2 separate regions of the Homo sapiens genome follow, and region 1 is linked to region 2. Evidence: fine-mapped expression QTL. A gene starts in region 2. The other region holds a variant in brackets. All regions are shown on one strand. Distances are from middle to middle. Region 1 holds the start of ENSA (endosulfine alpha). Region 2 holds the start of ARNT (aryl hydrocarbon receptor nuclear translocator).

The links.
Region 1: its variant is fine-mapped to the expression of ARNT in whole blood (TOPMed, PIP above 0.99).

Annotation. Positions count from the first base shown.
Region 1 is chr1:150,616,783-150,633,083 of GRCh38, reverse strand. ENSA (endosulfine alpha) reads left to right here and starts at 3,472. Exons shown (of 4, transcript NM_004436.4): 1 at 3,472-3,670; 2 at 5,492-5,617; 3 at 7,276-7,442; 4 at 10,225-10,959. The coding sequence starts at 3,614. The coding sequence ends at 10,240. It overlaps LOC112268239 (a long non-coding RNA gene), which reads right to left and starts at 3,265. Exons shown (of 2, transcript XR_007066603.1): 1 at 2,582-3,265. RefSeq lists enhancers at 1,808-2,777, 2,778-3,745, 3,488-3,757, 6,378-6,909 and a silencer at 10,137-10,431. The variant CTG/G (reference allele first, on the strand shown) is at 8,839.
Region 2 is chr1:150,869,193-150,885,493 of GRCh38, reverse strand. ARNT (aryl hydrocarbon receptor nuclear translocator) reads left to right here and starts at 8,895. Exons shown (of 22, transcript NM_001668.4): 1 at 8,895-8,951. The coding sequence starts at 8,927. It also overlaps a transcript of LOC107985204 not described here and the pseudogene RPS27AP6. RefSeq lists a cis regulatory region at 1,164, enhancers at 1,092-1,236, 10,330-10,829, 10,830-11,331 and silencers at 8,563-8,836, 8,840-9,269.

The DNA of each region.
Region 1 (16,301 bases), 250 kb after region 2:
AAAATAAGACATGGGAAATAGGGAAGGTGGTAACATGGGGGAGAGGTTTTGCTTGTGTTTCACCAGGAGAAAATCAGCTTCCTGTTTGGATACCCACTAGACATTTGAAGTTCTACAATGAACCCATCGGAGATGCAAAGAAAAGCACCTCCACGGAGACAGAAACACCGCAATCGTGCGCCATCGACTCACAAGATGAACAAAATGGAGTCTCTTATATCTACTTCTTTCTACACAGACACAGTAACAGTCTGATCTCTCTTTCTTTTCCCCACAGCTGAGGCAGGAGAATCACTTGAACCTGGGAGGGGGAGGTTGCAGTGAGCCGAGATATCACATCATTGCACTCCAGCCTGGGCAACAAGAATTAAACTCAGTCTCAAAAAAAAGGACAAATGTATAATTTAAATCAATCGTTCCTTTAGCAATCATAGTTTTTACACATTATTCTTAAGCAGAGCTTGGAATTAGAAATAGCTTGATCAGAAAGTATTTCCCAAAAGAATTATTCATCTTTTAGATGAATCCCAAAGTGCTGGGGTTACAGGCGTGAGCCACCACATCCAGCCTCATTCGCCTTTTCTAAAAACATGCTTGAGTCTTGCCTATTCCCCAAAAGAAAATCTGCTGCTACAGCTCTGCCCTTTCCTTGCTTTACTGTTAAATATTGCTACCACTGTTCAATATTGGTACCACCTCCTCGCTCCTTAACGTCTTGCGATTGACCTCTATCACCTCCATCTTTAATTTCTGTATCACATTTAACATTGACAACCTGCCCTCCCTTTCTTCATTTGCTTTCCATGGCTCTTCTCTCTTCTAATTCTCTCCCTACCACTCTGATCATTTGTATGTCTTTTGCCAACTTTTCCCCACGTTTCTGTCTTGGGAGTTTTTTTTTTTTTTTTTTTTTTAAGAGACGGGTTCACTCTGTTGCCTAGGCTGGAGTGCAATGGCATGATCATAGCTCACTGTAACCTCAAACTCCTGGCTTCAGGCGATCCTCTCACCTTGACCATTCAAAGTGTTGGGATTACAGGTGTAAGCCACCGCACCTGACTGGAACCTCTTTTTTTCCTACATTCTCCTTTGTGATCCCATCAACTTCCACAACTTTACTTACATTTATGTGAAAAAGTCCAAAATTTGTACATCTTCAGCGTCTACTTTTCTCCCAAACTCCCACACTTACATTTCCTAGAACCCTTAAATTTCAGATATGGAGATCTTAGAGGTCATTTATCCTAAGTCTTCATTGCCTGGATGTCTCCACCAAATGGTTCATTCGCTTTTAATAAAGTCCATGTTTTCAGGCCGGGCACGGTGGTTCACGCCCGTAATCCCAGCATTTGGGAGGCCGAGGCAGGCAGGTCACCTGAGTTCAGGAGTTTGAGACCAGCCTGGCCAACATGGCGAAACCCTGTCTCTACTAAAAATACAAAAATCAGCCGGGCATGGTGGCGCACACCTGTAGTCGGGAGGCTGAGGCAGGAGAATCACTTTAACCCGCGAGGCAGAGGTTGTAGGGAACTGAGATTGTGCTACTGCACTACAGCCTGGGTGACAGAGCGAGACTCCGTCTCAAAAAAAAAAAAAAAAAAAAAAAAAAGTCCATGTTTTCAAAACTGAATGCCTTATTTTCTCTCTGCTTTTCAGCTCCATTCCCAAATTGACTCCTCTTCTTGAATTTATTGTTTCTATAAATAATCACCTTGAGGCACACAGTCTTCTCATTCTCTATTCAGTCAGCTGCTAGTCTAGTGGATTCCATTGTCACAGACTCTCTTGGTTAGGTTCACTATTTTCTATTCTTAACTACTACGTTTCTAGGTTAAATCCTAATTATCTCCCACCTAACGTTTGCAGAGGACTCGGCTAGACTGTTCATCTCTGGTAGTTTTCTGCTTGGAATTCTGAGTCTTTTTATTCATTACCACCAAATTATCTCCATAAAGAGCACTTCTTATCTGCCACTCTTTTTTTTTTTTTTTTTTTGAGACGGACTCTCACTGTCACCCAGGCTGGAGTTCAGTGGCGAGATGCGATCTCGGTTCACTGCAACCTCCGCCTCCCAGGTAAAAGCGATTCTCCTGCCTCAGGCTCCTGAGTAGCTGGGACTACAGGTGCACGCCACCACGCCTGGCTAATTTTTGTATTTTTAGTAGAGACGGGGTTTCTCCATGTTGACCAGGATGGTTTCTATCGCCTGACATCATGATCCACCCTCATCGGCCTCCCAAGGTGCTGGGATTACATGCGTGGGCCACCGTGCCCAGCCTTGTTTTGTATTTCTAGTAGAGACAGGGTTTCACCATGTTGGCCAGGCTGGTTTCGAACTCCTGACCTCAAGTGATTCGCCCGCCTACGCCTCCCAGAGTGCTGGCATTACAGGCGTGAGTCACCGCGCCCAGCCAGGCCTGTAAGCTTTCTAAGGGCAGAGACTGCCTTACTATACACGTACCCCCCCCAACTAACACAGTACCATCCACATACAGACAGACGCCCAGGAAATGTTAAACTGTAATTCTGGATAGGTTAACTAGTATTAACCGTATTTACCAAATGTTTACCACATACTTACACTGTCCTCCTTGTTTCAAGGAGCGTAGTCCCCAAGGGATCACCCTGATGGAATATAAAAACTACACATAAGAGTGAAACTACGGAACGTAAGCCATTAGTGTTTTGCAAGACAGCTCGGGTTGAGACTCAGTCTCTCTCTTCCACAGGCCAAGTGACACATCGTAATACCATTGGTACCGTTTTATTTTATTTTTCGCGACAAAGTCTCGTCCTGTCACCCAGGCTGGAGTGCAGTGGCGCGATTTCGGCTCACTGCAACCTCCGCCTGCAGGGTTCAAGCGATTCTCCTGCCTCAGCCTCCCAAGTAATTGGGATTACAAACGCCCGCCACCACGCCCGGCTAATATTTGTATTTTTAGTAGAGACGGGGTTTCACCATGTTGGTCAGGCTGGTCTCGAACTCCTAACCTCAGGTGATCCGCCCACCTCGGCCTCCCAAAGTGCTAGGATTACAGGCGTGAGGCACCGCGCCCGGCCTGTTAGTACTACTTTAAAATCGAATCTGACCTCCAAATCATTTTCTGGAGCTCGATCATTTTCTGCTAACACCGCAAAGCTTAATCCTCTCCACCTGAGAATAAAAGGTTCCATCCTTCCGCTCTCCAGTTTGACGCCCTGCTAAGTCTCTCGGACGCGGTGGGCTGGAGTGAAGGAAGCCGGAGCCCACCAAAGCTGCAAAAGTACCACAGCCAGCAGCCCCGCCCCCGATATCCCCCACAGGCTTCCAATTGGTCCTTGTGGCTCACTCTCTTTCCAGGTTGGTGTTCCAGCTTGCCGGTCGCCTCTATAGAGCCCACCTTTAGACGGCGACTATTGGTAGATCGTTACGTCATTGCCCTATCTACCTCACTCCCACTGGCTCTCATAGGAAGGGGCGGTCGCAACGTCACGGGCAAGGGCCGCCATTTTGACTGAGCAACCCTAGTGACAGGAGCCGAAGCAGCAGCGCAGGTTGTCCCCGTTTCCCCTCCCCCTTCCCTTCTCCGGTTGCCTTCCCGGGCCCCTTACACTCCACAGTCCCGGTCCCGCCATGTCCCAGAAACAAGAAGAAGAGAACCCTGCGGAGGAGACCGGCGAGGAGAAGCAGGTGAAGTGGAAGGGGTGCGGGCGGGCGAGCTGGGGAGACCGTGATGGGGCGGGAGACGGTCTCCCACCAGTGCGGATTGGTCGCCATGGTCTCAGGCTCCGCAGGGGTTGGCCACTTTTTGCGTCACGCTGGGTGAGCTTCAACACGACATGCTGCTTTGGCGCTGGTTAGTTGGGTCGTTTGTCACTCAGTACTGTACTCTTCCTGATTGGCCAATAGGCCTACCGCTCAAACCTTGGACGCTGTGCTATAATTGGCCGAGCATGGACGTGGGGCGGGTGGTTGGAAAGACGGTGAATGGAAAGGGGATGGCTGGTGGTCTTGGGTGTGATGTGTGTTATTGGTTTGTAGAGGTAAGTGACCCAGCAACCGGGCTGGGGCCCGCAGCCTCAATCCGCAAAGATAGGGGTCGAGGTAAAGACGTTTAAAAAAAAACCAGTATTGGGGGAGGGGAGAAGTGTAGTTATTATAATGGCTAGTTTAAGGCGGCAACTTTCTCAAGAGACCTATTTTAGTAGCTAAGGATGGTCTATTGCTCACCTTCAGTGAGGACCCAGCAATATTGAAGAGGGCTAGAGTTCCAAACAGAATCATGGTAATTAAACTTGGAAAAGACGCCGACAGGGTCGTGAGAAAGACACTTCTCTCTTCCCCTAGACTTCCAAGGCAGGGACTTAGTGCACCTGCGATTCCGTGATGGAAACACTAACGCCAAATAAACCCCTTATTGGGGTTTGTATTTGACTTTTAAAATTTAGTACTGGGTTCAGGTACTCATTAAATACACTTGGTGTTATATCTATGCGTAATTTCCAAGAGAAAGGAATATAATTCCACTAAAAAGAGTCATACGTTGACTTCATATCTTTTCAAAAAGTCACTAAAGGGCAGCAGGGACCACAAAAAAAAAAAAAAGAGATTGACTACAGTAGTGAGAGTCCCTGCACCACCAGGGTAGGTATTGATTTTTTTGATGAAAACTGGTGGGTAAATACTAGTGAGCCTACTGTATCTTTGTTTTCCTGAGGTTAAAAACAGTATCATTTTCCTCTCTGTTTATCAGCTTGCTACCATAATATTTGTGGAAATGTTGAAGCAAGGCTGTGCCATTACTCAGGTGGAGATCTTTGGAGAAGGCCACATAGCTAGCCGCCTCCACAGGGAGACCTAACAGGTGGCTTAGACCTTGAATAAAGAAGGAACTGCTTTGTCGTGTAGCAATTTTAAAAAAGAAAGAAAAAAATAAGGAGGAAACATTTAGCAAACTATTTTTTGTTGTTGTAGAGACGGGGTTTCAACATATTGCCCAGGCGGGTAGTGAATTCATGAGCTCAAGTGATGCACCTGCCTCAGCCTCCCAAAGTGCTGGGATTACAGGCATGAGTCACTGCTCCCAGCCCCAAACTATTTTTTTTTTAATTTCTCATGTGACATGTAGGATAGCCTAGGGAACCCTGCTACTCATCCTCTATCACCAGAAGCCCTGCTTTTTTCTCTTTGTCTTTCTTAGCATTTGTGCTGAGTGATATGGCCCACTCTGTGATTAAAGTATTGTGTTTAGTATTACCTTTAGCCCAATACGCACAGGTCCCTGGCTGGTTCCTTGGGTGAAGTGTGAGAAGCAGCTTGTCTTTTTCTCTCACAATAGTCATCTTGAGCTTTAGGGATTTTAACAAAGGTCTAGCTTTAACAGCAGAGTAGAGATAGCGTATTTACAAGTGGGTGGATTTCCAGGAGAAGTTGATAGTATAGTTGTTATCAGATGTGAGAAGCTGTTGTTTCTCAGTCTTTAATTTTATTTGGCTCATTTGTTTTCTCCAGGACACGCAGGAGAAAGAAGGTATTCTGCCTGAGAGAGCTGAAGAGGCAAAGCTAAAGGCCAAATACCCAAGCCTAGGACAAAAGCCTGGAGGCTCCGACTTCCTCATGAAGAGACTCCAGAAAGGGGTATGGGGCATAGTCTCTTACCCTCTTTCTTTGGAGCTAAAGGAGGTTCTTCGAATGAAGTCTGTAGAGGTTCTACTGGATCCTTTTCTGGAGGTTTTGTTGTTGAACAGAAGTAGAGGCGAATTTGAAATTTGAAAAGAGCAAGTCAAATTAATGTAAATCCCTGATGTGGTATCAATTCCCTCCTGATTTCCCATGTAGGAAATTAAGGCCTAAATTGGAGCATTTGGGTGTGTGGGGAAATGAGGGAAAGATGTTAGAAACTGAAATGCAGACTGCCCCCAGGCATTTGCCTGTTTGAATGTTGGAGGTTTTAGGATTGTGCACTTTTTAAGCATTAGAGATAAATTTTGGGATGCATCATTTCAGAAGAAGATCAAACCATCTCTCCTACAGAAATAAATCCTCAACTTGAAATGAATCAGTTTCTTCATACCCTTGAAGTGAGCACCAGCCATTAATTATACTCCTGCAGCAAATGTATTTTTCTTGTTCAGAGTGGTCCTCCTTACCAAGAGAGAGTCTACTTTCATAGCCATGTAGCTCCTGATCAGATTTTTAGTTCCCAAAGGTACCTAAAGCTGACTGAGGGATTATATTATCGTTTTTTAAAAAAAAAATTTGGCCAGGCGCAGTGGCTCACGCCTGTAATCCCAGCACTTTGGGAGGCCGAGGCGGGCGGAGCACGAGGTCAGGAGATCGAGACCATAGTGAAACCCCGTCTCTATTAATAATACAAACACTTAGCCGGGTGTGGTGGCGGGCGCCTGTAGTCCCAGCTACTCGGGAGGCTGAAGCAGGAGAATGGCGTGAACCCGGGAGGCGGAGCTTGCAGTGAGCCGAGATCGTGCCACTGCACTCCAGCCTGGGCAACATAGCGAGGCTCCATCTCAAAAAAAAATTTTTTTATTTTCCTTACTCTCCTCTGCAATGACTGTAGGATTATAAATCATTACATTGGAGTGTGCTTCTCTGTGCGGATGAAATGGTGGGTGAAACATCCCTGTGGAGGATCCCAGTTATTGAGTCTTAGTCACAGATGATAATGTGATGCTGATTTGCATTTACCTTGCTGGAGGCAAGGCAGGCGTGGGCAGGCTGTCACAGTCATGGAACATGTGTGGGAGCTGTGAGAGTCAGAAGGAAAATACATTATCCTCATGAACAGGCCCAGTTTCTATTCCTGGTCTGGGAGAATAATCATTTTGAGGTTGTTGGCTTGTGGTTGATCTCCTGGTGGCTAGGATAGCCCCATATTTATCCTTCTCTATATCTTATTCATTTCTGTTTCTCCAGTTCCAGGCTATTGCCCTGTACCCAGTAAGGTCCTCAGTTACCCTTTATGAATAAGTGATTTTGGTGGAACGATCCTCTACTGAGTGGAGTACAAAGGATGGCAGGGGCTATCCCTTGACTCCAAAACTATATACTCTAGCTGGGAAATTGCTTATGTACCTGAAAAAGTCAGAACACACTGGGGAGAAGACATAAGTACATGTAATTAATGTTAAACTGTGTATGCATGAGGTTAATCAAGGAAGACTTCTTGAAAGATCCGAGTGTGCATGAGGGTTTATAATGGATGTGAGATGTGAGTCTCCTTGTTTTTGAGGAAGGCCAGAGTCCTCACTCACCTAAACCTCCCTCTTATCTCTTAGCAAAAGTACTTTGACTCAGGAGACTACAACATGGCCAAAGCCAAGATGAAGAATAAGCAGCTGCCAAGTGCAGGACCAGACAAGAACCTGGTGACTGGTGATCACATCCCCACCCCACAGGATCTGCCCCAGAGAAAGTCCTCGCTCGTCACCAGCAAGCTTGCGGGGTAACCTGAGCCCCCCTCTCCTCCCCTTCCTCAACCACTGGACGTTTATATATTATAGGCAGGGATGAAATGGGCACCTAGTCAGATCTTCTCAGCTTGCTAGCCAGAAATGACTGTGATTCTGCTGGGGGCTGCTGAGAAGGTAATGTAGGTTGAAAAGGGGCTCTAAGTTTATTTATTTCGTTAGATTGACACTTCCACACACTCCCTGTAGTCCAGGTAGGGCCCAGAAATAGGAAAGGCTAGGATTGGATAATGCTGCAAATGCTTTTTTTGTGTGAGAAACTGGAGAGATGTGATTTCTCCTTTTGGGAGAGAATGTCCCAAAATTGATTAGGCTGAGCCTTGGGAATAGTTTGGCAGGTTTAACATCCCAAGGCTAACCTAACGTAGTTGGGAAAGGTAGATTGAATGAGACATGTTTTCTGTGCTTCTAAGTGTTCTGTCCCTTAGGCTGCTATTGCTTCATGTTTCCATTATGGCAGGTTTAGAGAATCCTTAAAAAGAAAAATTGACTTGCTTGCCTAAAACTACAGTGCCCCCTTAGCCTCCATTACTTAGTATCTCTTACAGTTTGCTCTGGCTCTCAAATAATATAAAGATTGATGAACATTATTCACAGAAAATGGGCACCTTCTCTCTCTCTTCCAGCATGTTGCTTTTGAAAGTATCATGGGATAGTGGGACGAGCACTGGTTTAGGAGTCAAGATATCTGGGTTCTCACTCTACTCAGTCCCAGCAGAGCTGTTGTATAACCTTGATTAAGTCATTTAGCCTCTCTGGATTTCTATTTCCTCATCTGTAAAATAGAGTTAAATGTATGTAAGATTGATTCTGATTCTGAAGTCTTAACTGCCAGCAGAAAAACTCCATACTGTTCATTGTAAAACTAAAAGTGAGGAAGGCTCGTGGGTGGTGAACCTCTGCTCTGTAATACTGGGAAAGTACTACAGAGGGGAACCATTTGAGGGATACATGAGGAGAGAGTAAATTGAGGTTTGGGGATTATAAATTCAGGCAAGAGAACCTTATAGATATCACAGTCTTGAGGGTCAAAAAAAAATACTTAGGAAGCTAGCCATGGAAGCTTCTTGCCTCTGACCCAGCCCACTTTCCCAGCCTACCTCTGGGCCTTAGCTGCTAAAAAGCTTCTCTGGCAGCGGAGCTGCAGGCCTGAGGAAACATGCTCAGTCATGCACATGTGTTGACCCATGTTTCAGATGCAGTCTGATGCCAGGTATATTGTTAGGGAAAGAGGAAGAAGGGTAAACTGAGCTAGCCCCTGGGGCTGAGTACTCCTGCAGGGCTGGAGGAACAGGTTCTTAGAAGATGATTCACCTTGGAGGAAGCTGGGGAAAGTGGTTAGGGAGGGAGAGGAGGAAGACTGAGAAATCT[CTG/G]CATCCCCAGAACTCAGCAACCCAGCTCTTTTATCATGAGGAGAGGTAGCCATGCTGACTCATGAACAGGTGGAGGAAAGGGGTTGCAGGTGACCAGCATCTTCAATCTAGTTACCACCAGCTTGGCTAGAATTTTATTGAACGCAACTTGCTAGTTATGACAGAGAGGACCAGGGTGAGAACTAATGCTCAAGAGAGCAAGATTCTGTAATCCTCTTGCCCTCTCACATCACAAATTCTGATATGCCAAACATTTGGCCCAATGAGAATGACTGATAGACTTGCTGATGTGCATGTGGGGGGATGAGGTGTGTATATGCCTTTCTCCTGACTGGCCATTCAGTGTTCAGGCTGTCATTCAAATTGGATAGGAGAAAGTTGGTGAGGAAGGAATGGAGAGAGCAGGATCCCTGGACTCCCTGGTCCCCAAACTCCTTGACTGTCACTTGTAATTGTATATAATTTTTGTGTTTCTTGCTCCATTTCCTCATGCTGTCATCCTTAAAGTCCATCTGGGAAGGGGAAAATGCTGAACACCATTGTATAGTTTCTTCAACTGTCCCAGCCATGTTGTACATAGATATGTCATGTTATTATATATATAAATATATATATAATTTTGTACGTTTTCTTCATCTCCGATCTTCTCAAATTCTGTACTTTTTTTCTTTTCTGTCTGAGCTGCCTTCTCTATCATTCAGCTTGAGTCCTCAAGACTACTGGTCACAATGAGTCTGATTTTTAGGAAGGAATAGGAGGAGCAGGGAAATCAGAAAAACTGTTGGTCTCACTCTGTCTCTCTACCTGGTCATCTTCAAGGCTAAGAAAACAAACAAGCTACATTCTGTATTTGCCAGTTTCCACAGCATGAAGTACATAGCTTCCTTAGCAAGGAGTGGTCATTCCAAAATCCAAATGCAAATTGCTTTGATTAAACCTAGATTATTAAATCCATTCAGAACAGCATGTGTGTGGTCTGGTTCTGGCCTCCACACAGTCACCACCTCATCTCTGTGCTACCTCAGTCTTTGCAAGTAGCTGTGGCCATGCCTCTGAAACAGCCTGCTCTGAGCCAGGCAGCTTACCCACCTGGAAACCTCCAGTTATTTTGATCTTATCTAAAGAATTATTTTTCTATGTTTGTTATCCATGGATATCCCAGAAAGGCAGATAACGTTGTTTCGTGGATAGGAAAAGACTGAAATTCTATTTTTTGATTTTTTTTGCAACTCCCTTATGGATAGGATTGAGACATGCCAGGTAGCCTAATGGTTGTTAAATGTGGAGGAATCATGGGGTAGAGACTGGGTTGGAGTTCAGGGTTTTTTTCCCCTATTACTTGACAGTGTTGTTTTTTTTTTTTTTCTTCTGTGTTCGTCCGCAGTGGCCAAGTTGAATGATGCTGCCCGGGGCTCTGCCAGATCCTGAGACGCTTCCCCTCCCTGCCCCACCCGGGTCCTGTGCTGGCTCCTGCCCCTTCCTGCTTTTGCAGCCAGGGGTCAGGAGGTGGCTCGGGTGTGGGCTGGAGAGGCAGAAGCCCTTTCCTGTTGGTGTCCCAGCACATGGAGCCCCTTGGGCTGAGCACCAAGACCTTGAACCTTTTTTGTTTTACCTTTTTTCCAAATAACAGTTGGGAGAAATATCAATGAAATTCTGGGGGTGGGGGTGGGGTTGAAAGGGTGGGGTGGGAGATATGGAGGAGTATGAATTAGGGCTTGGAGTTGGTAAAAACATTCCTGACTATCCTTCTTAACCACGTGGCTGATGTGGGGTAGGTATGAGGGGAAGGAAGTGGAGTAGCCTAATGAAAAGGGGTTCTAGTTGAGCTCTGTAGATAAATGCCTTGTTTCAGTGTGGTTGGAGACCTGGTGTCAGATAAAAGAAACTCCATCCGCACAGACAGATGCAAACAGCTCCTCTAGTTCTGCAGAGCTAGTTGAGAACTCAACATTAATCATTTTAAAAAGTACTGTCCTTGAAATAGATTTGCTGTGGGAAGAAGGGCAGTGAGTGTGGGAGAAAGGAGCCGTGAGCGTGGGGAACCCCACAGAGCCCAAAGGACTTTTTCAGTATTCGAAATAAACAAAACAAAAACCCATGAAAAAACCCAACCCAGAAATATTCTGAAGCAGTTGGTGTGTTTTATTGGGGTTTGGGAGGGGGAAGAAAACAATACTGAAGACATTGTTAATGTGAGATGCGGCTGAGTTCCCCAATACCATCACTTAGGAAAGGGAGCAGGAATGTTGGCATAAACCTTGCCCATCCCTTTGTTTCTGTAACCAATGTAGAAGGTGCATCAACCTCAGTTTGTGGCTCACAAAATGAGGCATTTAAGATATTTGATCTAAATGGTTTCTTGACACCTAAGCCTAGTCCAGGTTTAGCAGAAAAGGAGGCCCAGTCTCCTTTTCCCTCTGTCTTCCATTCCTTTTCAAGTTCCCATGTTTGTGAGGGAGAAATGTGACAAACCAAAAGAAATATATTATTTCTTTGTAATAAGCCAAAAGAAACTCAAGTCTTTCTGCTGGTGGCCAGCAGGAGGCAGAGTGATTTCTTTCCTCATGATGTGCCAATCTGCATTGCTGGAAACCTGCTACTGAAAGAAGTTAAAAGCTGCCTGTGAATGTAACGTACAAAAGAAAGGTTACCAAAGGAGAAAAAACTCCAGCGGGTGTACGGTGGCTCACGCCTATAATTCCAGCACTTTGGGAGGCCAAGGTGGGTGGATCACTTGAGGTCAGGAGTTTGAGACCAGCCTAGCCAACATGGTGAAACCCCATCTCTACTAAAAATACAAAAATTAGCCGGGCGTGGCGGCACATGCCTATAATCCCACTTACTTGGGAGGCTGAGGTAGGAGAATCGCTTGAACCCAGGAGGCAGAGTTTGCAGTGAGCCGAGATTGTGCCATTGCACTCCAGCCTGGGCGACAGAGCGAGACTCCATCTAAAAAAAATAAATGAATAAAATAAAACAAGTACAAATTTAAACTAGAGACACAAGTTAATGGTGTTTATTGTGGTGGGGTTAGTGAGCCATCCCATGATTTCCTCCTGAGTATGTTATCCCTGGTTTGTGTTTGCCAGCTGGGGAATGAGGTGAGGTCTATGAGGCTGAATGTGGGATCATTCAATTTCTTTCTTTCTTTCTTTTTTTTTTTTTTTTTAGAGGCAGGATCTTGCTCAGTCACCCAGAATGGAGTGCAGGGTGCAAACACTCACTGTAGCCTCAACCTCCTGGGCTCAAGTAATCTTCCCATCTCAGCCTCCCAAGTAGCTGGGACTACAAGCACACACCACCACACCTGGCTAATTATTTTTTGTAGAGATGAGGATTCACCATGTTGTCCAGGTGAGTCTCAGAACACAGGCTTAAGCACTCTTCCCATCTCAGCCTCCCAAAGTGCTGGGATTACAGGCATAAGCCACTGCGCCTGGCTGAGAATATATTTTCATCCTTTCTTTTGTAGAGAGGATCTCGTTTTGTTGTGTAGGCTGCTCCTGAACTCCTGGCCTCAAGCAGTCTTTCCACCTCAGCCTCCCAAAGTGCAGGGATTACAGGTGTGAACCACTACACCCAGCAGTTAGTGCAATTTCATTTTAATACAAGTGAGGAAATTAAGGTATAGAGATAAGTTACTTGTAAAGTAGAAAAGCTAGTTAGCTGAAGAGCTTGAGTTAGTATCTTAGGCTTTTATATTATTTCTTCCCACTATTCCTGGCTTCCCTGGTCCTCAATTTTAATTTGTGGCCTTAAGAAGCCTGGGGTGCCAAAAATGTTTGGGGCTATCTGTATTTCATGTTACTCCTTAGCCTTTTTTTTTTCCTTTTAGTTCTTCACCACTGCACACTTGGCAGGATGTATCCCATTTTAAAACTTGACAGTCCATCTCCTTCACTCCCATACTGTAGGGCTAGGCAAGCAAAGCAAACTGATTCTGCAATGCTTCTAATAGTTATTCCTGCTCATTATTTTAGCTAGATGTATTCTAAAGTCTTTATCCCAAAGAGTTGAATCAAAGGTTCTTCCACTCCTCCAACCTGATTGTGCTGACAAGCCACTAAGCTGAGCCATCTAATATACAGGGTGGCAGGGATGAAGTCACCGTTACTGTCCAACAGCTTTTATTTTAAGCTGGTGTGGGCTGGGCATATCAAAGACAGGCAAAGAAAAATAACTTGGAGAGTTGCCATTGAGGATATATCCACAGTGAGCCAACAGCACCCACACAAGCAGCCCTCGTCTGTATAATGCCCTCTACTGGGTCTTGAGGGAGATTAAAAAGAAAGATCTCTTCCATCCTGGGGAACCTGAGATATGACAGCAGCACACAAATACAGGCAGATTTATAGTTCTAAGCAGAGTTCCAGTAGCTAAGCTAAGGGAAGGAGAGTCAGGAGATAAGCTGTTAGCTGAATTTTATTAAAGACAGATGACTTCACTAGTAAAGATAAAGTGGGACCTCCCGTGGTTGGGCTGCAATATTTTAAGTCCCAAGTGACTGCTGAATACTCGCTTTGCAGTTGGAAAAATAAGCTGTTTTTGGCCAGATAAACAGTGTAAGAGGTCATCTCTGCTCTAGAGGAACATGTAACCTAATTGAGACACTTCTACATATAATGCAAGATAGCATATGGTTAGTCAAGTAGTAGAATTCTGAGAAGAGAAAATCTGACTGGACTCATTAGGTAAACATAAGTGGTGGAAATGGACATTTAACTGGGCCTTGAAAGGTGGGTAGTATTTAAACAGTGCAGTTACTTAATAAGTGTCCACAATATGCCTGGCATTGTGCTAAAATACAAGGTAAATTGTATGTGGCTGCCTCTTTCAAGGAGATTACATTGTAGTGGTGACCTACACATGAAGAAATCATATTACAGTGTTAAACTTACAGCAGTGGTGGTCTAGCTATACAGAGGAATAGGGACAAGTAATTAATTAATAATAGTTGCTTTTTTTTTTTTTTTTTTCTGAGACAGAGTCTCACTTCGTCACTGGAGTGTAGTGGTGTGATCTTGGCTCACTGGAACCTCCACCTCTGGGTTCAAGTGATTCTGCCTCACCCTACGGAGTAGCTGGGATTACAGGCATGTGCCACCATGCCCTGCTAATTTTTGTATTTTTGGTAGAGATGGTGTATCACCATGTTGGCCAGGCCAGTCTTGAACTCCTCACCTCAAGTGATCCACCCACCTCAGCCTCCCAAAGTGCTGGGATTGCAGGCTTGAGCCACTGCTCCTGGCCTGTTGGTTTTTTTTTCTTTTTAAGACAGAGTCTCACTCTTGTCGCCCAGGCTGGAGTGCAGTAGTGAGATCTCAACTCACTGCAACCTCTGCCTCCTGGGTTCAAGCTATTCTCCTGCCTCAGCCACCTGAGTAGCTGGGATTACAGGTGACTGCCACCACACCTGGCTAATTTTTGTACTTTTAGTAGAGACGGGGTTTCGCCATGTTGCCCTGGCTGGTCTTGAACTCCTGACCTCAGGTGATCCACCTGCCTCAGCCTCCCAAAGTGCTAGGATTACAGATGTGAGCCACCGCGCCTGGCTGTGGTTTTTTGTTTTTGTTTTTTGTTTTGTTTTGTTTTGTTTTTGAGGCAAGGTCTTGCTCTGTTGCCCAAGCTGGAGTGCAGTGGTGTGATCTCAGCTCACTGCAACCTCCACCTTTTGTGTTCAAGCGATTCTCGTGCCTCAGCCTACCAAGTAGCTGGGACTATAGCCATGCACCACCATGCCCGGCTAATTTTTGTATTTTTAGTAGAGACGGGGTTTTGCCATGTTGGCCAGGCTGGTCTTGAACTCCTGACCTCGAGTGATCCACCCGCCTCAACCTCCCAAAGTGCTGGGATTACAGGCATGAGCCACCGCACCTGGCCTTTTTTTTTTTTTTTTTTTTTTTTGATACAGGGTCTCTGTCCCCCAGGCTGGAATGCTGGAATGCAGTGGTGTAATCATGGCTCACTACAGTCTCAGCTCCTCACTACGAGGTCAGGAGATTGAGACCATCCTGGCTAACACGGTGAAACCCCGTCTCTACTAAAGATACAAAAAATTAGCCGGGCGTGGTTGCAGGCGCCTGTAGTCCCAGCTACTCGGGAGGCTGAGGCAGGAGAATGGCCTGAACCCAGGAGGCGAAGCTTGCAATGAGCTGAGATCGCGCCACTGCACTCCAGCCTGGGCGACAGCGAGACTCCGTCTCAAAAAAAAAAAAAAAAAAGTTCGAGACCAGCCTGGCCAACATGGTGAAACCCCCGTCTCTACTAAAAATACAAAAATTAGCCAGGCCTGGTGGCGGGTACCTGTAATCCCAGATACTCCGCAAGCTAAGGCAGGAGAATCGCTTGAACCCAGGAGGCGGAGGTTTCAGTGAGCCGAGATCAAGCTACAGCACTTTAGCCTGGGCAATAAGAGTGAAACTTCATCTTGAAAAAAATAAAATTTTAAAATCCTGATTTTTTTTTATAACTCTGAACAAGTTTCTTTAACTCTCTGCCTCAATTTACTTACTTGCATAATAGTAACGACATGGTACCTACCATGAGGGTGGTTGTGATGATTAAGCAAGATAAGGCTTGTAAAGGCCTTACTTCAGGGACTACAAAAGTGCGTAAAACATGGTTCCAGCTGGGCGTGATGGCTCGCGTCTGTAATCTCAGCACTTTGGGAGGCCAAGGCGGGCGGATGGCCTGATGTCAGGAGTTTGAGACCAGCCTGACCAATGTGGTGAAACCCTGTCTGTACTAAAAATACAAAATTAGCCAGATGTGGTGGTGTATGCCTGCAATTCCAGCTACTTGGGAGGCTGAGGCACGAGAATTGCTTGAACCCGGGAGGCGGAGGTTGCAGTGAGCCGAGATTGCGTCACTGTACTCCAGCCTGGGCAACAAGAGCAAAACTCTGTCTCCAAAAAAAAAATAAAACATGGTTCCTGCCCTCAAGGAGTTTACAGTATACAGAGGGATATAATAAAAACAGACAGATAAGGAATTAGAAGGGATTGGTGCTAAGACAGGGACAAACACAAAATGCTCTAGAAGCACAGAATAGGGGAACCTACCCAATTTGAGGAGGTGGAGGAAGGACAGGAAAATCCTGTCACAGAAAATAGCTTCTAAGCTGAGATCTGATGAAGTAGAAGAATTTATTCAGGTAAAGGGGTTAGATCGGGAAAGGGGTCTTCTGGGTAGAAAGAACTATGTAAAGTGATTCAGAGTTATTACATTCTGCAAACTGGGAATAATTCACAGTAACTGTAGTAAGCATCCAAGGGGCAAGGCCAAGCTGGGTGTAGTGGCAGGTGCCTGTAATCCCAGTTACTCAAGAGGCTGAGACAGGAGAATCCTTGAATCCGGGAGGCGGAGGTTGCAGTGGGCCGAGTTAGCACCATTGCACTCCAGCCTGGGCGACAGAGTGAGACTCCGTCTCAAAAAATAATAAATGAAGTAACAATGGTGAAG
Region 2 (16,301 bases):
TAGCAACATTGCAATAAATATCCGTGTTTGTGTGTGTATATATACATACACATATATACATACATACATATATATACACATACATATATATACATACATATATATATATATATATATATATTTTTTTTTTTTTTTTTTTTTTTTTTTTTTGAGATAGAGTCTCACTCTGTCACCCAGGCTGGAGTGACAGCCTTGTATATATATTTCTCTGGGCACTTGTGGAAATGTTTTTGTGGAATAAATTCCTCCAAATATTAAAAATATACATGCTAGGTTGTAGGATATGCACATTTGGAATTTTAATAGATATTACCAAATTACACACTAAACGGTTATAGTAATTTACACTCCAATCAAATAGGCATGAAAGTGCCTTTTCTTTTTTTTCATAGCTTCACCAATGTAAGTTACTCAGAGTCTCTGAAATATTTGTTGAGCTAATTGGTTAAAAACAATATCTCAGTTTTTAGGCTGGGAACGGTGGCTAACGCCTGTAATCCTAGCACTTTGGGAGGCCGAGGCGGGTGGATTACCTGAGGTCAGGAGTTCGAGACCAACCTGACCAACATGGTGAAACCCTGTCTCTACTAAAAATACAAAAAATTAGCCGGACATGGTGGTGTGCGCCTGTAATCCCAGCTACTTGGGTTGCTGAGGAAGGAGAATTGCTTGAACCCAGGAGGGTGAGGTTGCGGTGAGCTGAGATCGAGCCACTGCACTCCAGCCTGGGCAACAGAACAAGAAATTGAGACTCCATCTCAAGAAAAACAAAAACAAAAACAAAAACAAAAAAACCCCACAATATCTTTTTTGTTTTGTTTTGTTTTGTTTTTGATTTTTTGACACAGCGTCTTGCTCTGTCGCCCAGCCTGGAGTGCAGTGGTGTGATCTCGGCTCACTGCAACCTCCGCCTCTGGGGTTCAAGTGATTCTCCTGCCTCAGCTTCCTGAGTAACTGGGATTACAGGCGCACGCCACCATGCCCGGCTAATTTTTGTATTTTTAGTAGAGACGAGGTTTCACCATGTTGGTCAGGCTTTTCTCGAACTCCTGACCTCATGATCTGCCCGCCTCGGCCTCCCAAAGTGCTGGGATTACAGGTGTGAGCCACTGCGCCTGGCCCAATATCTCAGTTTTTTAAAGATTGCATTTCTCTAATTACTACAGTATTTGAATCTCTATTGATTTACATATTTTGCAGATACATACAAACCTATCTTCACCTTACCTATCCTTTTCCCTTTTGACTGAGCTATTAACCTTTTACTTATTGATTTGAAAATGTATATCTATCTACAAACATAAGTACACACAGATACATTTTTACACATTTTTTACTTATTAATAACTTTTTTGTGATACATGTGGTTCCCAGTGCCTATCCTCTGACTCCAACTCTCTCACTTTTGAATTTGCTATCAACATCAGCTTCCAGAATTAAACCTCTCTTCTCAGTCCAATAACTTCTGGCTTCATTTGCTTCCCAGACCAGTCTCATCCCCTTTCAGATATTTTTAAACTAGGGTCTTCTGCAATTCTAGAATCTTCCATCTTCAAGATACTGATCAGTTCATCATCTCTCCAATTGTGGGTAAACTGTTCACTTTCTTTCCTCAGGTTTCTGAGTATTGACAGAAATTACAATGCTCCATAGTTTCATGAAAATTTATGCTTTCTAACTTTGTCTAGCTCCCCAGAGCATTTGGTGATCTTTTTTTGTTTCCTTTTTCTACTCCTGTGGCAGATTATTCACAGTCGTTTTGTTCATACCTAGTTGACTTCCCAACCAATTGCTTACAGCTGTGCAGCTACACCCACCCTCATTTCTACCTCTTATTCCCAGCAGAAGTTTCACCTGTTACTTTTCTTTGAGACTCAAAGTCATCACACATGAGTTCCCTTTCCTCCACTTCAAAATGTCTACACATTTTTAGAAAAAGGGTATCTTGGTTTTCTGAGAACACTTTCACATGCTGCCCTAACCCTGTCTCCTTCTCTCCCCTAGAACCAGTCTTGTTTTCTCAGGCATATATATTTCTTGCATTTTTTTATTTTTTTGTTTTTTGAGACAGAGTCTTACTCTGTCACTCAGGCTGGAGTGCAGTGGTGCGATCTGGGCTCACTGCAACTTCCAGCTCCCAGGCTCAAGTGATTCTCATGCCTCAGCTTCCCGAGTAGGCGGGATTACAGGTGTGTAACACCACGCCTAGCTAGTTTTTGTATTTTTAGTAGAGATGAGGTTTTGCCATGTTGGCCAGGCTAGTTTCGAACTCCTGACCACAGGTGATTCACCCACCTTGGCCTCCCAAAGTGCTGGGATTATAGGCATGAGCCACCACACCTGGATGTTTCTTGCATTTTTAGTTTGCTCCTTTCCACAAGCTCAGTCTATAGAAATATTTTACTATTTCCACCCCTAGCCTAACCCCTACCGCAGCTACCATTTGATTATTTTTCTCTTCTTTGTCATGTTTCTTGAAAAAATAATCTGTGCTAACTAACTGTGTCTACTTAGTTTCTACTCACTTCTCACCCACTTGCAATCTGGTTTCCATTCCTTAGATGTGCTCGTAGGCTGGGCGTCGTGGCTCACGCCTGTAATCCCAGCACTTTGGGAGGCCGAGGTGGGTGGATCACCTGAGGTCAGGAGTTTGAGACCAGCCTCTGTGAAACCCCGTCTCTACTAAAAATACAATAATTAGTTGGGCGTGGTGGCGGGTGCCTGTAATCCCAGCTACTCGGGTGGCTGAGGCAGGAGAATCGCTTGAACCAGGGAGGCGGAGGTTGCAGTGAGCCAAGATCATGCCATTGCACTCCAGTCTGGGCAAAAAAAGCAAAACTCCATTTAAAAAAAAAAATTATTTGTTGTTTATCCAGCATTCAGATCAAACTGGCTTAGCTTTATTTTTATTTGCTAAATCTGGCAACCATACCCAGAGACACTTAATAAAACTTTGGAGGCTGGTCTGAGTGCCTTGGTGTTTACAACTAATTGATCCCAATCAGTTACAGATTTCTTTGTTCCTTCACTTGACTGGTCTTAAAAAACAAACAAAAACAAAAAACAATTTAAAAACTACCATTCTAAATAATTAAAAAAACCAGTTTACCATAAGAGTTAACAGAAAAAAACTGTAATTTTCTATTAATTTACAAATTAATATAAACATAATAGTAATAGTATTAGTAATGGTTAAATATTGATAAGCTGAAAATGTGTATAAAAACATGTAGATCAGGCTTCACAGTCAACAGATTTCTTAATTTTTTAAAATTTGCCAACTGGCATCCTGATCTGATCTGTTAATTTTTATTTCTACTAAAATTAGAAAATCTGTATTTACAGTGAGTTTGTCAGATATGGCAAGAAATGTTTGATGGCTACCAGATAATTCTGAATAGTTGGAGCTTACAAGGATCTATTGGAGAATTTCTAGTGAAAGCATTCAGTGGTTTGTCAGATTCTAAGCAGAAGAGCAAAGAGTAACCTCAAAAGTCAAATGCTTCAACTTGAGAGAGGGCAGGAGTTGTATTCAGTTGCATTGGCTGCATTCAGCTCTGGGAAGCATTTACCCCCATTTGGTTGCAACATTTGGATGTGGTTTAGAATATGTTCAATAATGTGTCATTCATTTTTTTCCTCTGATGAAGAAAGAAAATTATCATGTGTTGGGAAATAAAATACTCTTGGCAGTCAAGGCATTTGCATCATAGTCTGCTTTTCTTACAAAATCCTGATACTTTGTTCTTAACATTAAAAATGTTTGCTTTGTGATCCACCATCTGCAGGAGAACTGCTACCAAGATGCAGATTTTTGTAATGGGGAAGACATCACTCTCTTATTTGTTGGGGTTCATTGGTTGAACTCTCTAATACAATACAAAATGTAAAGTCCTGGCAGGATAAGAAAGGAATTCCTACTCATCAGCAGAGTGATCTTTGCTGGTAAGCAATTGGAAGATGGATGTACTTTGATGACAGCATTCAAAAGGAGTCCACTCTTCTTATTGTGCTGAGACTTTGTGGTGGTGCCAAGGAAGAAGTATTACACCACTCCCAAGAAGAATACGCATAAGAGAAAGAAGGTTAAGCTAACGGTCCTAAAATATTACAAGGTGGACAAGAATGGCAAAACTAGTTGCCTTTGTTGTGAGTGCCCTTCAGGTGAGTGTGGTGCTGGAGTTTTTATGGCCAGCCACTTTGAAAGACATTATTGTGGCAAATGTTGTCTGACTTACTGTTTCAACAAACCAGAAGACGAGATGGGTTAATAAAAGGCATGAACTAAAAAGCAAAAACAGGCTGAGTGTGGTGGCTTATGGCTATAATCCCTGTGCTTTGGGAGGCTGAGGTGGGAGAATGGCTTAAGGCCAGGAGTTCGAGGTTCCAGTGAGCAATGATGGTGCCACTGCACTCTAGCCTGGGTGAAAGAGTGAGACTCTATCTCTAAAACAAAAACAAAACTCCAAACCATGACATTTAGAAGTTAAAGTAATATGTTCATGTTAATGAAAATATTGCTCAGATGAACCATTTGAGAAACCTACTTAAATCCTACTTAAAATAATAAAAATGGTTTATGTTAGTATTATCTATATCATAAAGAAGAGATTTTCACTTCAATCCTTATTAAAAACTGACAGCATTTCCCCCCCTTACTGGCCTCCATACTTAACTGTGGAGAAAGCACCAATTTATCTGTTTCTTCTCAAAGATTGTGCTCACTGGATGATATTTTACTACATTTATGGTTTGTGCTAATTTGTTCAATGTCGAATCAAAATCAGGAGAAATTTTTTTTTTAGAAATGAGGCCTTGCTATGTTTCCCAGGTTGGCCTCAAACTCCTGGGCTCAAGTGATCGTCCCTCCTCAGCCTCTAGATTAGCTAGGACTACAGGCATGCACCATTGAGCCTGGCTGGGAGAAATATATTTTGGCTATGAACTGTTTTCTGAATAAAATGGAAAGTGGGCTGGGCATGGCGGCTCATGCCTGTAATCCCAGCACTTTGGAAGGCCGAGGTGGGTGGATTGTCTGAGCTCAGGAGTTGGAGACCAGCCTGGGCAACATGGTGAAACCTCATCTCTAATAAAAGCACAAAAAAATTAGCGGGGCAGTGGTGACGGGCGCCTGTAATTCCAGCTACTGAGGAGGCAGAGGCAGGAGAATAGCTTGAACTTGGGAGGCAGAGGTTGCAGTGAGCCATCATGGCACTGCACTCCAGCCTGAGCAACAGAGTGAGATTCTGTCTAAAAAAAAAAAGGAAATAAAAAGGAAAGTGGACTGACATCTTTTTTGTAGGAACAGTGTTCTTTCTGCATCCAAAGTTATAACTCCATCAGTGTTTTTTTGTTTGTTTGTTTGTTTGTGTTTTTTTTGCGACAGAGTCTTGCTCTGTTACCAAGGCTGGAGCGCAGTGGCATGATCTCGGCTCACTGCAACCTCCGCCTCCCAGGTTCAAGTGATTCTCGTGCTTCAGCCTCCCGAGTAGCTGGGATTACAGGCATGTGTCACCATGCCAGACTAATTTTCGTATTTTTAGTAGAGATGGGGTTTCGCCATGTTGACCAGGCTGGTCTCAAACTCCTGGGTCCAAGTGATCCGCCTGTCTTGGCCTCCCAAAGTGCTGGGATTACAGCCGTGAGCCACCATGCCTGGCCTGTAACTCCATCAGTTTTGATCCCAAGATATCTTTTTCAGACTGACTCATACCTCACAAAATAATTCTTATCTAAATGAAAAATGTTTTCTTTTGTATCTTGAATTTTTAATGATAAACCAGACAGGAAGTTTCTGGGCATTTCTCCTTATGTATTGCCTATATGCTGTAAGCGGATTCATATTGTGTATATCAGTGGTTTCTACGCTTAAAACAAACATCTGGTAGCAGGTACAGGGCAGATATTGCCATTTCATGTTGTGTATCATGACTCCATGTGATATTTGACAAAGAATTCTGCCAATAGCTTTGTTACACTTTTTTTTTTTTTTTTTTTTTTTTAGATTGAGTCTCGCTCTGTCACCCAGGCTGGAGTGCAGTGGCCCAATCGATCCCAGCTCACTGCAACCTCCACCTTCCAGGTTCAAGCGACTCTCCTGCCTCAGCCTCCTGAGTAGCTAGGACTACAGGCGTGTGCCAACACGCCCAGCTCATTTTTGTATTTTTAGTAGAGATGGGGTTTCACCATATTGGCCAGGCTGGTCTTGAACTTCTGATCTCAGATGATCCTCCTGCCTTGACCTCCCAAAGTGCTGGAATTACAGGCGTGAGCCACTGCACCCAGCCAGCTTTGTTGCACTGTCTCCAAACAGAATATGTTATTAACTTTGTAGCTAGTTGTGTAAGCAGCTCTATAACAAAATGATTTCTACCAATTTTTTTCTACAGAAATGTAACTTGATCTCTTTTAACCACAAAATGTATCCACATCATACAGGAAAACATTTTGCATTTATTCTGGAAAAATCCATTTTACTTGGTAAAGAAGCTACAGCATTTTTTTTTTTTTTTTTTTGAGATGGAGTCTTGCTCTGTCGCCCAGGCTGGAGTGCAGGGGCACCTCGGTTCACTGCAACCTCTGCCTCCCAGGTTCAAGCGATTCTCCTGCCTCAGCCACCGGAGTAGCTGGGATTACAGGCACGCGGCACCATGCCCGGCTAATTTTTGTATTTTTAGTAAAGATGGGGTTTCACCATGTTGGCCAGGCTGGTCTCGAACACCTGACTTTGTGATCCGCCCTCCTTGGCCTCCCAAAGTGCTGGGATTACAGCCACCCCGCCCAGCCCAGCCAATGTATTTCTTTTGGGTGGATGATTTTTTTCTTTTTGGTGACTTATAAATATAACAACAAAATGAAAGAAAAATGAAATTTTAACAGATGTAAACAATAATATGTAAATTATGTTAAAATACCTTTGCAGTAAACTAAATAAGTGGATCAATGTAATCTGCGCAGTACATATACAACTTCTAAGAATGCAAAGCTGTTCAATAGCATAATGGGATTTTTGTTAAAATTTTAATTAAATTTGTATTAAACATTTTGTGAGCGATACATGAAAATGGAAGTACTTTGTAGTGCTAAAATTGTAGTGCTAAAATAGGGGGATGGGTGGAACAGGTTTCCAGTGTCAGACTCCTTTAGTTTGCCTCCCACATTACTTACCTGCTGGATGTCCCTTGCTTACCCTCTTTGTTTCTGTTTCCTTAATTGCAAAATGGAAATAGCAGTAGAACCTACCTCATCGTTGTTGTGAGGATTAAATGAGTAAATACATATAAAGCATTTTGGACAGTGCCTACCTCGAATAGCTCAATGCTTCCTATTACCAGGAAACAAAAATTAGCCGGGCGTGGTGGTGCGCGCCTGTAATCCCAGCTACTCAGGAGGCTGAGGCAGGATAACTGCTTGAACCCGGGAGGGAGAGGTTGCAGTGAGCCAAGATCGCACCACTGCACTCCAGCCTGGGTGATGGAGCAAGACTCCGTCTCAGAAAAAAATAAAGAAAAAAGAAAATAAATCTGCACAGCCATCATCTTATTGATTCCCTATTAAAAACTCCTCACTGGCCAGGTGTGGTGGCTCACGCCTGTAATCCCAACAGTTTGTGAGACCGAGGCGGGCAGATTGCCTGATGTCAGGAGTTCGAGACCAGCCTGGCCAACGTCGTGAAACTCCATCTCTACTAAAAATACAAAAAACATTAGCCAGGCGTGTGGCGTGCGCCTGTAATCCCAGCTACTCAGGAGACTGAGGCAGGGGAATTGCTTGAACCGGGGAGGTGGAGGTTGCAGTGAGCCGAGATTGCGCCACTGCACTCCAGCCTGGGCGACAGAGAGAGACTCTGTCTCAAAAACAGACAAACAAAACTCCTCACTCTGTCCCTGTCACTGACCAAAGAAGTTACCCATTCTCAAATTACTTTCTTCATCTATTGCCTCCAATTTTGGCTGGCAATATCTCCCATACCAAACCGTTAACACCTGGATCCTTTTAGACTACCGGTTCCATAGCAGGCATTCAAAAGTTAGTCATTTAACTTTTTCACCAGGGACAAAAGTCCTTAAAAGAGGAAAAAAACTGGAAAGGATTACAAATCACCATGTGATGTTTAGGTGCTCTTTAGCACCTAAAGAGGATTTACAAGATACATTGTCTGCACGGCAACCACTCAGACGAATCCACCACCAAGCGAAGGTTTTTAGTAAAATATCCTTTTTTTTTTTTTTGAGACGGAGTTTCGCTCTTGTTGCCCAGACTGGCGTGCAGTGGCGCTATCTCGGCTCACTGCAACCTCTGCCTCCCAGGTTCAAGCGATTCTCCTGCCTCAGCCTCCCAAGAAGCTGGGATTACAGGCATGCGCCACCACGCCCGGCTAATTTTGTATTTTTAGTAGAGACGGGGTTTCGCCATGTTGGCCAGGCTGGTTTCGAACCCCTGGCCACAGGTGATCCGGCCGCCTCGGCCTCCCAAAGTGCTGGGATTACAGACGCGAGCCACCGCGCCCAGCCTAAAATACCCATTTTAATTGCATTTCAATGACGTTACTCGGTCATTGACCTCTTACGCAAGGAGGGCGAGATTAGGGAGACAGCTGGACTTCTTCCTCGCCCTCCCTTCACTGGACTGGCTGGCGCAGTGAGTAGCCCTGCCCTTGGACGATTTGGCATTTTCATTGGTCAATTTTTCTTAGGAGGCTGGCCGTGTGTTGACTCCGCCTACTATATAGGCGGGGTCTCCCCGCCGCAGGGGCTGGGATGCTGGGGGCTGCTGAAGCCGCCATCTTGGATTCCGCGGTAGCGGAGGCGGCGGTCAGGCGCCGCTTCTGGGGAGTGGCCTTTCTTTTCCCCTCCCTCCCGGTTCGGTGGCGGCGGCTCCTCCCACTGGGGGGGGGGGTGGCGCGGCGGCGGTGGCATCTGCGGCCATGGCGGCGACTACTGCCAACCCCGGTGAGGAGACGGAGGACTGGGGCGCCTCTAAAGGGGAGGGGCCGAAGGGGCTGACAACTAAGGAGACCCAGGGCTGAGGGGACGCAGCTGGAGCTGAAGGCGCCGGGGCGGGGCGGGGGCCGCGAGAGACGGTGGGGGAGCGGTGACCTGGGGAGGGGCCCGATCCCGGGGACTTGGGTAGACTCGAGTATACCCAAGGGAGCGAGGGGGCAGGTGGGAGTTGAGGGGGGCTCCCTGTCCTGACCTCCGTTGGAGCGGCAGCCAGTGCGGGGCTGGCCCGCCCTCACTCCTCGGTCGGCGTCTGGTCTGTGATGTGGTCCTCTTTTAACCCTCTGCCCGCTGGAGCCGCTTGATGCCGAAAACTGTAGGCAGAGTGTCTCGGTTTACTTTAAGAGTAGTTTGGATTCATAAACCCTGGACCACACTGCTCTTTAGTTGAGGCGTTGCTTCCAAACATTTAAAGGTTTAGATTTTAATTTAAAAAATAAAAAATGGACATTCTTTGATATATACGACGTTTCTTTAGGCTGTTACCTCCCACCCGCAACCCCCGTCCCCGTCTCCGTCCCCGGACTATACTTTGAAACTTAGATCTTGTGTTAAGAGGGCCTGTAGGTCTTTGCCTGCTGAGGGCAGGGGTTTGTGTAATGGTTATGGTTCCGGACAGGTCTTTAGTTCCACAGCCCCAGGTTTAAATCTTGTTAGGCCTACGTCGAGGCAATTTCCAAACTCTTTCAGAAAAGTTTGATTCCACACCATTTCTCAATTTCAAAAAATAATCAAATATCAAAAAGGTTTGGTCTGTTTTGTCTAAGAGATGGAGTAGGGTGTAGTGCAGTTCTAGAGAGATCAGATCTTCAAATTACTAGTCCCAGCCCTCTTTCCTCTATGTTACAGTTATTCCTCTTTAGAAGGCATTTCATTTTAGGGGTCTAGTTTATCTTGGAGACCTTGGTTATTCTTGCCAAATAAAGTCTATCCTTTTCCAAAAACCAATATATTTGATAGCCTTAAAAAGGGCCTTGAGATATGTGTGTGTGTTGCGTGGGGCGGAGAATTTCTTGAAAATAAAACAGTAGGAGTGATTACCCCCATCCCCACGTTGAAATTTAAATTAGATTTTTTTTCATGTTACTGAAAGGCAGTATGATTTTGCAATATCCAGATTTTGATAGGACAGTTGAATCACTGAAATTTCTTTTCTACCGTGTTTCTGGGAATAGCTATTTTAAGAAATGGTTAATTTGTCACGTCATTTTTTTTTAATCTTTTAAATTTTTTTTGAAGGAAAGGGAGGTAAAATTAATCGCAAAAATTACATTGCAGGAAGTGCTGAGTGATAGAATAAAACTATAAAACAGGAAAAATGCCGTTATGTCAAACCTGACCTTGTAGTAATATAACCTATCTGTGAACTATGGAATAAATAAACAAGATTTTTAACTGATCACACATTGCAAAATACTTATATAACCCTAGTTAAATTGCAAAGCATTTCTCTTATTAAGAAGTGGCCTGGGTAAACAAGTTTTAGTTCATATGTCAGAAGCTTTTTTCCAGCTGTGTGGGTGGGGTTGCTTTATTTTGTTTTGTTTTTTGAACAACAGCAACCAGAATGACAGCCTCTTGACCATATTTTCATAAGCTGATCAATATCAGCTTAAATCTTAGCAGAAAATAGCATATGTTAGTGTGTATGTGTGTGTGCAGAATCCTTGTTAATGAAACAGCTTTGTTTACTATGCTTTGGCTGCTTGCTTCTGCAATTTTTAGATTTCCTTTTTCTTTTTCTTTGTTTTCCTTTCTCCTCTCCCCTCTCTCCTGTCCCCTCTCCCCTCTTTTTCTTTTGCTACAGGGTCTTGCTCCTTGCTCTGTCGCCCAGTCTGGAGTGCAGTGGCAAGATCACTGCTCACGGCAGCCTCCACCTCAGGGGCTCAAGTGATCCTCTCACGATCAGCCTCCCGAATAGCTGGGACTACAGGTGCCTTGCCACCATGCGCGGTTAATTTTTAAATTTTTTTGTAGAGACAGATGCCTTGCTATGTTGCCCATGCTGATCTTGATCTCCTGGTCTCAAGCAAGCCTTGCCTCAGTCTCTCCAAGTTGGGAATACAGATGTGAGACACTTTGACCAGATTTCTTTTTTGATGTTGAAAAATTATTCCATCTCTTCTGACTTATTGATCCCATGTTCAGTTCAATCAAATCAGAAGATATATTTTCTTTTTTCTTTTCTCCCTTTGCTCTTGTATATCATGAGGAAGAGATCAGAGATACATTGTGGATTTTTTCAGTAGCCTGTTGCTTTTTGGGAAATGAGATTAATGAATGGAGGGACATAGGTGGAAATGTACTGTGCTTAGTGAAAGTAAATGTTTTCAGGTCAGAATTCTTTGCTACACTGTCATACCTTCTTTCCTTAGAGCCATTTTAAGGACTAGGGACACCATGCCTATTTCTTTGAGTTTTTTCTACTTTGTATTTTTGCTGGAGTACTAATTTTTTTTTTTTTTTTTTTTTTTTTACAATTCTTGTTAGTTTTGTCAAGATTTTAAAAAATATTTCACTCTTTAACCTTCACTTCAGTTAATCCTTTTTAAAAATAATACTTATTTTTATTTTTCAGACAGGTTCTTGCTCTGTCTCCCAGACTGTAGTGCAATGGTGTAATCACAGCTCACTGTAGCCTTGAACTCCTGAGCTCAAGTGATCTTCCCACCTCAGCCTCCTGAGTATCTGGGTCTACAGACACACACCACCACACCTGGATACATTTTTTAACTTTTTGTAGAAATGGGATCTTGCTATGTTGCCCAGGCTGATCTTGAACTCCTGTCCTCAAGCAATCCTCCCACCTTAGCCTCCTAAACTGCTGGGATTATAGGTGTGAGCCACTGACCCGGCCAAGTTAATCCTTAGGGTTAGTAATAGTGCTTGAACATGTTAATTGTGCTGGTGGCCCTGCAGTGTTTTTCAAGGGGACCACGTTCTTCTGCATTTTTCACTGTGGTGCTGCATTAGAAGAAGAGTAAAATATGGTTGGTACTCTCTAAGAGTTGTGTTGAAGTAATAGTTCTGTGATGATTTTTTTTCTCGAATTGATAATTCTTCATATTCTATCATTTTTCACTAGTTCTACTTATCACTGGCAAGTAGAACTCGGTGGGTAGGTGGTCCATGAAACTTTAGGCTGTTTCTTATCTATGGACTAGACAAGTTTTGTTTTGTTTTTTTTTTGTTTGTTTGTTTGTTTTGAGACAGAGTCTCACTCTGTCGCCCAGGCTGGAGTGCAGTGGTGCTATCTTGGCTCACTGCAAGCTCCGCCTCCCAGGTTCACGCCATTCTCCTGCCTCAGCCTCCCGAGTAGCTGGGACTACAGGTACCCGCCACCACGCCCGGCTAATTTTTTTTTTTGTATTTTTAGTAGAGACAGGGTTTCACCCTGTTAGCCAGGGTGGTCTCGATCTCCTGACCTTGTGATCCGCCTGCCTCGGCCTCCCAAAGTGCTGGGATTACAGGCTTGAGTCACCGTGCCCGGCCCGGACTAGACAAGTTTTGAGGAACACATTTTTTTTCCCCATAGGAGAGGGTCTTGCTCTGTCACTGAGGCTGGAGTGCAGTGACACAATCATGGCTCACTGCAGCCTTGACCTTCTGGGAGCATGTGATCCTCCCACTTCAGCCTCCTGAGTAGGTGGGACCACAGGTGTGCACCACCGTGGCTGGCTAATTTTAAATTTTTTTTAGAGACAGGGTCTTGCTATGTTGCCCAGGCTGGTCTTTAACTCCTGGCCTCAAGTGATCTTCCTGCGTTGGGCACTCCCCAAGAGCTGGGATTATAGGCATGACCACCATGCCCAGCCAAGGTGGAACACTTTTTAAATTGAATGTGTCATTTGTAATGCATTGGCTGAGGGAACAGTTGGGAGGAGATTAGGTATTTGATTTACAATTCCAAATTCAAACTAGAGATGTTGAATGAGTTTGTAGTAAGTGTAGGTTTTTATCTCTCTTGATTCTGGTATTCTCATTAGCAGAGAATTCTTTTTGTGCTATTATGTACAAGTTACTGTGGATGAAGAATGTAGAAGGAAAAGGGTAATACCGTTTGGGTTTGTAAGGCTGTCATTTAGGAAGAAAATTTTTTTTAGCTAATTTTCACCTATATAACTTAGTTTTAACTGCGTCAATTAACACAATTCTTACCTGTTACCTTTATTTACCTTTTTCAGATATGGGAAAATAGGAATTCATGCAATGTAAAGTTAAGATGTCAAGATATTCTTTTATGGCCAGGTGTGGTGGCTCGTGCCTCTAATCCCTTTGGGAGGCCGAGGCAGGCCGATTGCTTGAGCCCAGGAATTTGAGACCAGCCCGGACAACGTGACGAAACCCCTTTACTACAAAAAATACAAAAAATTTTCCGGGCACTGTGGTGCACTTCTATAGTCCCAGCTACTTGGGAGGCTGAGATGGGAGTATCACCTGAGCCTGGAAAGTTGAAGCTGCAGTGAGCTGTGATCATGCCACTGTACTCCAGCCTGGGTGTTGGAGTGAGACCCTGTCCCCCAACAAAAAAAGAGATAGTATTTTATTATATTGCAAAGGCCTTTTTTTTTTTTTTTTTTTTTTTTTGAGACAGGGTCTTACTGTGTCGCCCAGGCTGGAGTGCAATGGCGTGATCTTGGCTCACTGCAACCTCCGCCTCCTGGGTTCAAGCTATTCTCCCGCCTCAGCCTCCCGAGTAGCTGGGATTACAGGCACCTGCCATCACGCCGGCTAATTTTTTATTTTTAATAGAGACAGGGTTTCTCCATGTTGGCCAGGCTGGTCTTGAACTCCTCACCTCAGGTGATCCGCCCACCTTGGCCTCCCAAAGTGCTGGGATTACAGGCGTGAGCCGCCATGCTCCGCCGCCATCTGTTTTTAAGAATGCTGCCTTGGCCGGGCATGGTGGCTCATGCCTGTAATCCTAGCATTTTGGGAGGCCGAAGTGGGCAGATCACCTGAGGTCAGGAGTTCAAGACCAGCCTGGCCAACATGGAGAAACCCTGTCTCTACTAAAAATACAAAAATTAGCCAGGCATGGTGGCAGGTGCCTGTAATCCCAGCTACTCGGGAGGCTGAGGCGGGAGAATCGCTTGAACCTGGAAGGTGGTGGTTGCAGTGAGCTGAGATCGTACCACTGCACTCTAGCCTGGGCGACAGAGTGAGACTCCGTCTAAAAAAAAAAAAAAAAAAAAAAAAACCACGACTGCCTAATATGCCATAATGACTTTAGTAAGTAGACATCAGTGAATCTTCAGGTTGGAAATATGACAACACCTATCATTTTACACTTAAGGAGACAAACCCAGGGAAAGGAGTGGATAATTAAGTTCCTTCTATATGCCAGGCTGCACTTTCCTATTTTGTTGCTAATCTTTATGTCTAGTCTGTAGCAACTGTCTCCAACTTTTCACATAAACTCTTCAAATTTATGTCACTTTTCATAATTTCGTCAATGTATTTTCTTGTTTTAAAGTTTTTATTATTTTAGATAGTGACCGGGTCTCACTATATTGCCCCGGCTGGTCTCAAACTCCTGGGCTCAAGCAATCCTCCTGCCTCGGCCTCCCAGAGTGCCGGGGTTACAGGTGTGAGCCACCCTCTGAGGCCCATTTTATATTTTCCCTCCACGTTTTCATTGTAGTTGAATGGACAAGTAAGTTTATGGATTCAACAGTATACTTAGGGCTGGACATGGTGGCTCATACCTGTAATCCTAGCACTTTGGGAGGCTGATGTAGGTGGATTGCTTGAGCCCAAAAGTTTGAGACCAGCCTGGGCAACGTGGTGAAACCCCATCTGTACAAAAAAATACAAAAAATTAGCAGGGTGTGGTAGCATTCCCTGTAGTCCCAGCTACGTGGGAGACTGAGATGCGAGGATGACCTGAGCCTGGGAGGTTGAGGCTGCAGTGAGCCATGATTGTGCCACTGCATTCCTGTCTGGGTGACTAGGAGACAGAGTGAGACCCTGTCTCAAAAAACACAACAAAACCAGCATACTTAGGATATAAGTTCCATGAGAGCAGAACTTTTGCTTTCCTTGTTTACCAGAGCATTGCAGTGCTTACAGTGGGTGCCTAGTATGTTGGATTAGAGTTCAATGTATGTTTGTGGAATAAAAATGAATGTAAAACCCACTGTTAATATGAAATACCTTTGAAGGGATAAAACTAATTAAGCCATTGACATCATGAATTTGTACTAACTATAATAATATCTAATATTTATTAGTAATACTTACCAGCTGTTCTCATTTAATTTTTATAACAATCGTATTAGGTAAGTATTATTATTCTTGTTTTACAGATGAGGAAACTAAGGCACAGAGAGTGAATAAGTAACTTGTCTGAAGTCACATAGCTACTAGAAGTTAGAGACAGAATTTTATTGTTGGCAGTCCATCTACACAGTCATCATTCTTAATCTCCAAGTTATGATTTTTTCCATTGTGACTTAGAGTCACCTTCCTACTGAAATATAGTACAATGGATATCTTTTGAGAAGGAGGTAGGTGGAGTATTGTCTTTTTTGTAGATGAAAAGGGTGAAATACCACATTAGGCAGCCTGGGGGCAAGGCATTGCTTGGTTGGAGAACCAAGTGCAAGGTGCTAAAAAAAGGAGCTAGAACAGTAGTTTCCAGGCTGAGTGTGGTGGCTCATACCTGTAATCTCAGCACTTTGAGAGGCCAGGGTGAGAGGATTGTTTAAGCCCAGGAGTTGGAGACCAGCCTGAGCAATATAGGGAGACCTTGTCTCCACAAAAATATATATAAAAAAATTAGCTAGATGTGGTGGTGGATGCCTATAGTCCCAACTACTTGGGAGGCTGAGGTGGTGGGAGGATCTCTGAGCTTGCTAGGTCAGGGCTGCAGTGAGCCATGATCATGCCACTGGACTCTAATCTGGTTGACAGAGTGAGCCCCTGTCTCTAGGAAAAAAAAAAAAAAAGGAGTAGTTTCCTAAAATCTTTTCTGTAACATTCTATAATTCTTCATTTTGTTTTGTTTTGTTTTTTTGAGACTGAGTGTCCTTCTGTCACCCAGGCTGGGGTGCAGTGGCACGATCTCAGCTCACTGCAAGCTCCGCCTCCCAGGTTCACGCCATTCTCCTGCCTCATCCTCGCGAGTAGCTGGGACTACAGGCATCCACCACCATGCCCTGCTAATTTTTTGTGTTTTTAGTGGAGATGGGGTTTCACTGTGTTAGCCAGGATGGCCTCGATCTCCTGACCTTGTGATCCGCCCACCTCAGCCTCCCAAAGTGCTGGGATTATAGGCTTGAGCTAGCGCGCCCAGCCTAA